2 separate regions of the Homo sapiens genome follow, and region 1 is linked to region 2. Evidence: fine-mapped expression QTL. A gene starts in region 2. The other region holds a variant in brackets. All regions are shown on one strand. Distances are from middle to middle.

Region 1 (5,377 bases), 66 kb before region 2:
TTAGAGAAGCTTTAGTGATGGGGTGAGTGGTAAAGTCGTGAGCCCCACGGTGGTAAGAATTCGAGAGTTAGTTTACTGGACACAGCACAAATAGTAAGTGACTTTGAAGTTTTGCCAAGGTGGGGAATCTCTCCAGTCAAGCCACATGGTCACAAGGTTGTTTGTTGCTGGCGTGGAGTTGATGTGAGATAATTAAGTGTATGGCTGAGAGAGCCAGCCACAGGGTGCTCTGTAGAGAGCGTTCACTTGTGTGCTTTGCCAGGATTTTCAGCCTGGCTTTCTATCACCACTAATTCTTCTAGCCCTATGTTGAATGTGCCCTCTTGTACCAGGGAGAAGCCAATTTTTCAGATTTGGATTTGTTCCCCCTGGAGCATTTGGTTGTATAAAACACGTTTTCAGTTGAAAATGAGAGTATGTATAGAAAGACCTTCGTCTTACGATATGAAAGATTGGGCTTTGAAGCTTATCTCCCTGCCACTTATGGCAGGGTCTTGGAAACTGGGAGTGCTGCAGAGGTGACCCAGAGCCCTCTGGGGATTTGAATGCTCGCTGCATATCTCATGAGCAGTCTATTTTAAAGCATGCTGTTGGTACAAGATGAAACTGTTAGGCTGTTAGACAAGGGGATCAGAGACTGGGATATAACTACAATGTGTATTTAGGAGAGGAGAGAAATTGACTTAACTGGGAAGAGGTGGCTAAAGCAATGGCGAGTGGAAAGGAGCGTAAACTTGTGATGATTGTTTCACATTGACAGTGATAATAAAATCCCTTTCTTTGTAGCTAAACCAGAGGAATAAATGTTTACTCCACTAAACTATGGAAGCCTGTGATAGAGTTGGAATTTGAAGCTGAGCCTTGAGAGATGTGGGGCAGGGCACAATGGAGTTGGGAGGGAGGAAGGGCATTCCAAGCCCTAGAGAAGAGTCTGAATAGAGGGACACATGAGAGCACTAGAGCACGTTTGCTGAATGATGGCAGCATCAACTAGAGGAACTCAAGGGAAAACCTGAGTCCCGCCCAAACCAAAGATTTTACTTGTTTTCCTCCCCTAAGTTACTTTTACTCAGTACAGTAGTCACCCTTTCTCCATGAGGGATATGTTCTAAGAACCCCAATGGATGCCTGAAACTGCAGATAGTACTGAACTCGGTATATACCATGTTATTTCAGTCTGATAACCCAACAGGCAGGTAGTGTAGACAGAGTGGAAACACCAGACAAAGGGATGATTTATGTCTCAGGCAGACAGAGCTGGATGGCGTGAGATTTCATCATGCTCCGCAGAACGGCATGCAAGTTAAAGCTTACTAATTGTTTATTTCTGGAATTTTTCATTTTAATATTTTTGGGCTGCTGTTGACCACAGGTAACTGAAACTGAAACCAAGGGGAAGGGGACACTACTCTAACTAGCTTTTGAACCAGGCCCTATACATTTCTAGCATGCATCCCCACTGCCAACCCATCAACTCCACATAGCCTTCTTCCCAGGAAGTTGCCCTCTGAGTAGTGTTGGTCCTTTACTGGCAGCAATGCCATCATCCCCATGCAGAACACAATCTTCTAAACAGCAACGCAGTCATCCTCATGGACAGGTGTGTTTTGTTGTGTGTAAGGGATTGGGTTAGGCACTTAAAAGATAGAGCATATGCGTAAAAATGAGCATTTCTCATAACTGGAATAGATAGTGGTACTTCCGAAATTTAATGGAGAAAAAATGATGCCTAAGACAGTGCAGTCAGGAAAGCTCCAGTGGAAATGTGGGTATTGGCCTGGGCCTTGAGAACTGGTAGGACTTGAAAGGATAAGGGGGTTCCTGAGCTAAGTGTAGAGCAGTGTGCGTTCCAGGCCCACGCATCTATGATCATGGGAAAAATAGAGCCAGAGTAGCTGGAGCAGGAGATTTATAAAGATGCACAGAGGAGCTAGAACTAGAGGGATACCTTATATAGAGCCTTGAATACAAAGAGGAGGAATGTTTATTTGAGCCTCTAGGCAGAGGAGTATCTTTAAAGGGTTTTGATTGGGAGGTGAGGGGCTATGACTATATCAGGGTTTTTGGAGGACAACAGTCTGCAATATGCAAGATGAATTAAAAGGAATTGAGACAGAGAATTCATTTAGAGAGTTACTTATAAGGTTTAGGGAGGCCGGGTGCGGTGGCTCATGCCTGTAATCCCAGCACTTTGGGAGGCTGAGGTGGGCGGATCACGAGGTCAGGAGATTGAGACCATCCTGGCTAACACGGTGAAACCCCGTCTCTACTAAAAAAATACAAAAAATTAGCCGGGTGTGGTGGTGGGCGCCTATAGTCCCAGCTACTCAGGAGGCTGAGGCAGGAGAATGGCGTGAACCTGGGAGGTAGAGCTTGCAGTGAGCCGAGATCACGCCACTGCACTCCAGCCTGGGTGACAGAGCGAGACTCCGTCTCAAAAAAAAAAAAAAAAAAAAAAAAAAAAGGTTTAGGGAAAATCCCATCTTGTTGATTACAGTTGTTCTGGCCTATGTGGCCTTTGAGGTAATCAAGGTCTGAATTAGGGAAGTAGGAATAGAAAGAAAGAAACTTATTGATGTCAGTGGCCAGTCCATTAAGTGGGGAATCCAAAATGAAGTGATGATGAAAAACCCAATTAAGTGGCTGAGCGAGCAGAAGCCAGGAAATCTCCAAATATAGATTCAGGTCCAGAAATAGGCTTCAGTTTTAAGGTACCAGAAGCCCAGGAACTATCTGATCTACCCCATCTACCCCTGGATTTCTGCAAGATGTTCAAAGGACATTGCATATTATAGATTCTCCATAAATGTTTGTCAAGCTACACAGGAAATATAGTAAGACATGTTCTCTTTTTTTTTTTCTTG[G/A]CAGTCTTGGATTCATGCAGAACCTGGCAGATTTCTTTCAGTGTGGCTGCTTTGGCTTGGTGAAGCCCTGTGTGGTAGATTGGACATCACAGTACACCATGGTCTTTCACCCAGCCAGGGAGAAGGTTCTTCGCTCAGTATGAAGAAAAGCAACCCAAAACTCTCAATCTGATTTGTTTTTGTTTATGTCGATGCCCTGTAGTTTGAAAGTGAAGTAAAGATTTAGAATTCACCTAAGTCCAAAGGAAAACACGTGGTTTTTAAAGCCATTAGGTAAAAAAAGTTCTCAATAAAGGCATTACAATTTTTTAGGTTTAGAAAGATGGACTTTTCTGATAAATCTTGGCAGACATCTAAAAAAAAAACCATATTTTTCACAAGAAAATGCAAGTTACTTTTTTTGGAAATAATACTCACTGATTATGGATAAAATGGAATATTTTCAGATACTATATTGGCTGTTTCAAAATAGTACTATTCTTTAAACTTGTAATTTTTGCTAAGTTATTTGTCTTTGTTGTATCTATAAATATGTAAAAAATATTTAAATAGATGTACCTGTTTTGCTTTCACACTTAATAAAAAATTTTTTTTTGTAGTTGAGACTTGGTTTCTGACACTTAACACTTCTAGAGTCTTAAATTAAGATGTACATAGGACACAAATTAGTTCACAATTCCAGGAATGAGTTGAGATTATGATTAATACCAGTAAGCAAGATTTAATTTGGTTTTTCATCTTACTTAGAAAATAGAACATAGAAAGTCTTAAATATTAATTACAACTTTACTTAGTACCCTCAAAATATTAGACTGATATGACTGTAATTACTAATTTCCCTTGTTCTACAGGAAATGCTAATTCAACTTTAGTATAGTATTTATACACCCCTGGGCATGGCACCTTCCTGCTGAATAACCTCCCTTGGGTTCCTGTTGCTCTTGGGGTAAAAGCAAAAATTCTCATTGTGACCTACAAAGCCTTGAAGCATATAATCCTGTTTTGTTTAGCAGTGTCAGTGGAGCATGTTGTACTCTAATCATGTGGCCTTTCATTGCAAGGATCCGTTCTCTCTTCTACCAGAGATAAGAGATGCAGATAAGGAAACTAAAGCCAAAGAAGTTTTTATCTTCTCCAGGGTCACAGAGATACCAAATGGGGCTGCCACTGTACAGTCACAGTCACCTAGAATATCACGTGACACATAGTATTTGTTCAAAAAATATTAGAATTTGTTGAACCAATTTCAGGGTTTTAAGCAAGAGATGATGCTATCAGAATTGTGTTTGAAGACTGTGCTTCTCAATTGGAGTACAGAAGAGCTTTTTCAAGGTATATTCTCTTTCTCCCTTCTTCTCTCACCAACTCCTACCAAGTTAGTATTGTGGTCCAAATGGTCCAGAGACATTAGATCAGAGTCACAGGGCCAGGGTGGGTGTCTAGGGCTCACAGTTTAAAATTCAGTTTCTCCATCTCAGACCTTTCAAATCAGTCTCTAGGGAGAGAGTGCTGGAATCCTAATGATTCTTACATATGCATACTACTGTTTGAGAATCATTTACTTAAGGAACCTTACCTTCTCCATTCTATACATTGTGAAAAGTTTAAGCTTGAGAATCACTGCTTAATAGGTATGCAGTTGTAGTGGTAAAGAGACCAGATTCTAGGGACCCTGGGTTTGAATCTATGACCTATTAATTACCACATAAGTTACTTTTAATCCCTTTGGGCAAATGACATAAATCTCTAGAAACTCAGTTTCCTCATTTGGATTATGTAGATAATAATAGTAAACAATTTGAAATGTCATTATGAGAATTAAATGTGTTAATGTTTAAAAGTGCTTAGAATTGTACTTGGCATATAGTAAATGTTCAATAAATGCTGGCTATTAATTGAGAAGTCTAACAGAAAACTGATTACCAGAAAGATAAGCTAGAGGTAGAGAAATGCACCAAATCCAGTCTTCCGTGCTCTGTGTTGTATGTTCTAGGGCTAGAATTCTGCAAGCTACAGTCTCCCTGCCAGATGACTTCCTGTTAAAGTCGGTAGTAGACTGCAAGGAGGAGCAGAAAAGGGACTTATTCCATTCTTCTTGCCCGCTCTTCCTCTCAGTGTTGCTCCAACGATGGCCCTTTGCCCTGCAATGACATTTTGGAACCAATGTCTAACTTTTCTTCTTCCCAAAACCTACTTCATTGTGCCCCATTAGAAGTACTAGCAATAACCAGGCAGGGCTCTCTCCTTTGACATCTGACTTCTGCCCCGGGATACTTCTTCTCTGGGCATCTGAATTATGATAACCCATCTCTTCTCTTAGTTTCCCTATTCCCAGGAGTGATAGCTGCCTCTAGCAATTACTATCTCTATGTTAAATCAGTGTGTTCCCTTGTTACTTTTTCAAAAATAATAGCACCTGTTTAGCTAATTCCCTTTACTATATTCTCTTTATTAAAATAACTAGTGTGGTTTCTGTTTTTCTGGTGAAACTTGACAGATACAGAATATTAGAA
Region 2 (5,377 bases):
TGGCAAAAACAGCAATTATGTTTGCATCAACCTAACAGCTACCTAAGACCACAAAGCTAGATCCTGGCAGAAGCAGGATAGCCACTGAGACAAAAGGGTAAATTAACAGCAGTTCATAAATAAGGCTAATGGAGACTATGTTCCTTCCAGTTTTGGACACCAGGGACTTCACACACTACTCCCATCTTTATCTATTTTAAAGAAAATGCTTGGAACAGCAATAAGTAAAATAATAGGCAGACCAAATAACTTTAAGAACATGGACAAATGGGACATGTTGTGACATCTTGGGTTTATCAAGTGCATTTCCGTTTGTATGTTCATGGAATCCTGCATTCTTAGCTCGCAGAAGAGAAGATGCAGGCTGAGAGAGGTCACGTAGGAGTGGAACACAGATATTTTCACTCCAAGTATGGTGCTCTTCTTACATGGAAGTCAGTATGGTGGACCCAACAGGAGCTCCTTGCCAGTGTGTGCATCTGAGATGTACTGATCTGACAATAGGCTTTTTCTTTGCCTCAGATTATCAGAAGCAATAGTAATTCTCTTATTTGACTAACATCTAAAACTATTAGGAAATATGCATGTAAGTTCACTTTTTTAAACCTATTAGTAGTTGGACACCCCCCACAGACAATTCTTTTGTAATTTTACAAAATGTTTGCCCCCTAAACAGAGCATTTTGCAGACCCCATAAATAAGCTGCCAATTTGGTAAAAAATTATCTTAAAAAGAAATTCAGTCTCCAAACATGTCAAATGCCCTTTCTGAATTCCAAGTTGTTCAAGAATCCTCAGAAATGTTGTAATGAAACTAACGAATTTTTGAAGAGGGGTAGGTTTGCCCCTTTACACTCTTTCTAGTTTTTAATGATTTGGTAGCTGTCTCAGACATAAAGAGAGAAAAGGTATTTTTAAGAATAATAAAATTTGTTAGTTTCATTACAACATTTCTGAGGATTCTTGAACAACTGGAATTCAGAAAGGGCATTTGACATGATTGGAGACTGAATTTCTTTTTAAGATAATTTTCATTTTTTAAACTATATTAATTAAATTAGTATATATTTTAAACTATATATTTTTGAAACTATAAGATAAGGTTCATTTTTTCCAGGTCTTTACAGAGGCTAACCAAGGTTGTGGCATTAAGAAAACACATTGGATAGGGAAAAATTATGGAGTTAAATCAGGATGATACTGAATTTAAAATTGCAATGATGAATACTGAAGTTATAAAGTACCTTTTCGTTCTCCATTCTGTAAATTCCTCATACATTTAGAGTTTAAAAATGAAAAATCTGGAGTTCCTCCCCAAATCCCGATGGTTCAAGTAGTCCAATCAATTGTACTAAAAGTTTTAATATCCTTAAAGAAAAAAGGAAATAGAAAAAGTTAGAGAAAAACAAGAACCAAAAGATCTGTTGAAAATTCCTTCACGGACAAGAGGCTACGGAAACAAAGCCTAACGAAAAATGACAAACTAGATTTACATTTTATTCTCGACCAGAGATCGCCCCACTGAGCGGAGAACGCCAACAAATGCCAGTAAATTCCTTCAGCAAACGGATCGGCGGTCCTAAGACTTCAAGCAACCCACGGAATTTCTAGTGACAGCCCTCTCCCATCTGTAGAAAAGGCGAGCCATTCTCCGGACCCCAGCGAATACTTTAGGAAGCACCCACCTGTTCGCAGATCAGGGCTCCGGACTAAGCGCACGAGCCCAGGTCCCAGCTGAGCGCACGCGACCCCAAGTAACTGGGTACAAGTCTGCATCTAGATGCCTGGATTTCTCCCCTTACACACACGTGCACAGGCTCAGCAGTAAAGTCGTGGGAGGTCGCTTGACAGGAAAGTTCCAAATTCAGTCCCAAAGCTCCAAGTATGCAGTTGGGCATTTAAAGAGTCTTATAATTAAGACTTTTTTTTTAAATTTAAAAAAGGGCTTCCTTAAAGATACAAAGCACTATTTACTCCCTGTTCGGGTGGCCAGTTCACACCACGGCGTTAGACTCCACCTTGGAAGGCTGTATTTGCCCAATAAGGCAAGCAGGTACTGTCCCCCGGCCGCCACTCGCTCAGTGCACTTCCCCCAACTTTCGGCCAAAGGCCCCTCCCCCAGGCCCTGTCCGCCCGCCGCAGTCCCGACAGTTCCCGGACAGCATCATCGTGGTTTCCAGGACAACAATTCCCGACCAATCAGAGGGCCGGAAGCGGGCCTGCGATTGGCCGACGGCGCCAGGGGCGGGGCCGGACCTTCCGCCTTCGATTTAAAAATTTGGCGCGGAAAGTCGGACCGTGGCCGGCGCCTCCCCTTAGCTGCGCGGGGCCTGAGCGCGGGCAAACCCGCGCCCGGAACCACGGCAACCCCGCCCCTCCCCCTCGTTCGCCCCCGCCCCTCTGCGCGGGAGCTCAGCTCCTCCCTCACGGCCCCCGGCGAAGCGGGAGGCGGGAAACGGCCGCCGCCGCCGCCGCCGCCACCCTCCCGAGCCCTCTCCCGGTGCCGTGTCGCCCGGGCGCCGCGCCCCTCTGCGTCCCGCTGACCTGTCAGTCCACCTCACGGCGGGAGCCGGCGGGGGCTGAGCCGGGACTCGTCAGCACCGCTGCCCCTCTCAGGCCCGGGAGCCCGCGTACCTGGCAGTCAGTCTTTCCGCAGCGCCGAGGTGGGTGCCGGAGAGAGACGCCGGGACCGGGACTGGCGGGCCGGCTGGCGGGCAGAGGGAGCGTGACCGTCCAGGAGCAGCCAAGCCCCCGATTTGAAATTAACCCGCTCCCGGCGCGAGCCGATACCGCGGGCGGGGAGGGCCGCTCCCCTCCCCCACGCCCGCTCGCCCCGGCCCCGGCCCCCGAGCGCCAATCCGAGCCTCCCGACCGTAGCCGCCGGCGAATCGGTGCAGGCACCGCCCTCCACTCCCGCCTCTACGGCAGAGTTGGGGGAAAAGTTCAGCAACTTTTTTTTCCTTTTTTTTTTTTTTTGCATACACCCCCTCCCCTTGCTCAAAGTTGGGGAATAAAATTTGGCCCGTCCGGGGCTCGCGGGCTGGGCCGCAGGCGCCCTGCGATTCCCCGCTTGGGGCTATCTCACCCCTGCCCAGCCCCAGGCCGGCTCACCTGCCCTCGGACTCCAGCCGGACCTCTCCCCCTTGCACCCCTGGCATGCATGATTGTGCTGCCCACCGTCTGCCCCGTGCCTCGCAGAAACTGGCGCGAGGAGGGAGAAGCTTGGCTACTGGTGCCTAAGCTCCGTGGGCTCTGGGCCTTGGCCCAGCGGTGAGAACTCAGGTGTAGGAGGAAGAGGAGGAAGGCGGAAAACCCTCCAACCCTGTCCTCGCCGTCTTTCCTCAGGGTCTCCCACCCACTCCTCCCTTTCTCTTCCCTGTTGTCTTTCCCTCTTTTTCCGGTCTCCGAGCCTCAGGCAGCTTTAGCCTGGTTCCCTGTAGAGCCCTAGCAGGGTCGGGGAGACACTTCGATCCTTCGTCCTCACTTTGCAGAACGGGACACCGAGGCCCGGGGCGGCGGCGCTGCCTCGGCTGCACCTGGATCATTTGCGCCCGCGTTGGCTCCCTTTGCTCTCCTCTGCCTTAGACTTTTCTGCGGACTGGTGCTGAGTGTTGCCCAACCGCGCCGAGATCTGGGCGCCGGTCTCTCGATCTGGACTCGGTTTGGCTCGTCCTCCTCTGTAATCGCGTGTCTTTAGGCTCCAGCAGGGCCCGGGGCCACACTTCCCCACTCCCACCGCTAACTTGGGGATCAGTGACTCTCCCATTGCTGACTAGCAGGGCGAGGCATTTTTATTTTCTGCGAAACGCGATGAGGGCGGGGATGCTATGATATTGAGGCTGGGGTCGCAGCGCAGCAGCTGCCGGCCATAGGGCCAGGGGTCTCCGTGGCGAGCGAAGGCTCATCTCCCCGCGGAACGCGACCGCAGGCTTGCGGTGTGGCCGCCCTGGAATGTTGGCGCCGTCGTGTCCCTGTCCCCCTTTCGTCGCCAGCTGAGGTGCAGGTCTTGCTCAAGAAGGCGCTTCGACCTGAAAGCAGGCCTTTCAGGTACTGTGCAGAGGGGCCACTGCCTGTGGCTCGCAGATTTGAAATAAAGCAGAGGTCACTATATAGGGTTCCACCGTTGCTAGCACTGAGCGGCTGGTTCTTACTAAGCCCAGGTACCCCTTTTTTGGAGCAAGACTGGGTTCTAAATGTATCAACAAAAAGTGGGGAGTTGGTGCTTCTGCTTTAGCCACTAGCTGTTGGCCAGATTGTCATCTCCCCCAACCCCCTGAATGGTCAGCGCTCCCAAGAGTGCATAGATTCAGCTATGCCTAATGTACCCGAAGTTATTACAGCCCCGGAGTCCTGTGGGCCATAAATCCCTTTTAAAGTTCTTTAGAAGCAGTCTGCCTCATGCACCTGTGTTCAGAGATAGTGACTAATTCGTTCAAATCTGTGATCTACAGGGCCATTCATGCTGCAGATGTCTGAGTGACAGTTACCTGTAAGGCACATCATGCAGGGAGCAGCCACCTCTGGTGACACTTGACAGATGGCCTCTCATTTCATACTCAGCACAGGTGTGAAAGCATGGGTTATGACTCTGAGAGGGAAGCAGCATTTTAAAGTGACAAACCCAAGGTCTAACTGTAAGGGACAGGACTGGGATTTGAAGCCAAGGGTGTTTAACGTCTCAGGGCTTTCCACTGAAAGCTGTGTTCACCACTGTGCGGCGTGCTCATCCTTACTTGCTTCATAGGATAGTTGTGTCCCATTTTATAGAGAAGAAAACTGAGGCACAAAAGGGTTAAACTGATGGCCAAGTTAGCTACAGAGCCAGAATTAGAATCCAGGTCTACCTGCTCCAAGTTCATACATCCCATTCCACTGCCTCTGAAAGTTCCTGTGAGAGCAATGTTAGTGCCAACTCAGGCTAGCCCTTAACCATTTCAACCCCTCCCTAAACACACAAAAAAACAGGAAGGTGAGAGTGTAATTCTTGCTTACTGATAGTTGTCATGTCTTACTGAAGGAAGTGAAATTATAGTCAAACTCATTGAATATGTTGAAAAGTGGTTTTATTAAGAGTGAAGTGATACAGTTTTGAAGTCTTAACAACACTTTCATGTAATGAAAGGTAATAAAGAAAGAAAGGTTCTACTCATCACTGTGTAGAGTATCAATTTGAAATGCAGCATGAGTGTAAAGGAGGGAAAAGACTACTGAAAACTTTTATGTTTACTGCATAACCAAGAAGGAAGGATCAGGGCATAAGCTTGAAACTTTTTTTTTTTTTTAATTTTCCCATCAAATATGTTTTCCACTTATTAGTTACATAATCCAAGGGAATATTTGTGTATTTGTTTCTGGTCTTTTGTTCATCATGTTGTGTA

Which allele goes with the higher level. Positions count from the first base shown, and alleles are read on the strand shown. Sizes are in standard deviations (SD) of each study's normalised expression.
With allele G in place of A in region 1, the expression in prefrontal cortex of the gene that starts at base 2,082 in region 2 is higher (small effect, 0.35 SD a copy in CommonMind).

What was found. PIP is the estimated chance that this variant, and not a neighbour inherited with it, causes the effect. A credible set is the group of variants that fine-mapping cannot tell apart.
Region 1: its variant is the best candidate, but not a certain one, in a credible set for the expression of E2F8 in prefrontal cortex (CommonMind, PIP 0.88).

The regions. Positions count from the first base shown.
Region 1 is chr11:19,172,954-19,178,330 of GRCh38, forward strand. ZDHHC13 (zDHHC palmitoyltransferase 13) reads left to right here. Exons shown (of 17, transcript NM_019028.3): 17 at 2,869-3,462. The coding sequence ends at 3,007. Among named protein-coding and RNA genes, the nearest start is that of CSRP3-AS1, 21 kb to the right of the region's middle. RefSeq lists an enhancer at 1-2,036. The variant G/A (reference allele first, on the strand shown) is at 2,865.
Region 2 is chr11:19,238,864-19,244,240 of GRCh38, forward strand. E2F8 (E2F transcription factor 8) reads right to left here and starts at 2,082. Exons shown (of 13, transcript NM_024680.4): 1 at 1,685-2,082; 2 at 1,244-1,367. The coding sequence starts at 1,258. The region is part of intron 1 of CSRP3-AS1 (CSRP3 and E2F8 antisense RNA 1); the gene reads left to right. RefSeq lists a silencer at 2,152-2,851 and enhancers at 2,972-3,081, 3,287-3,858, 3,859-4,428.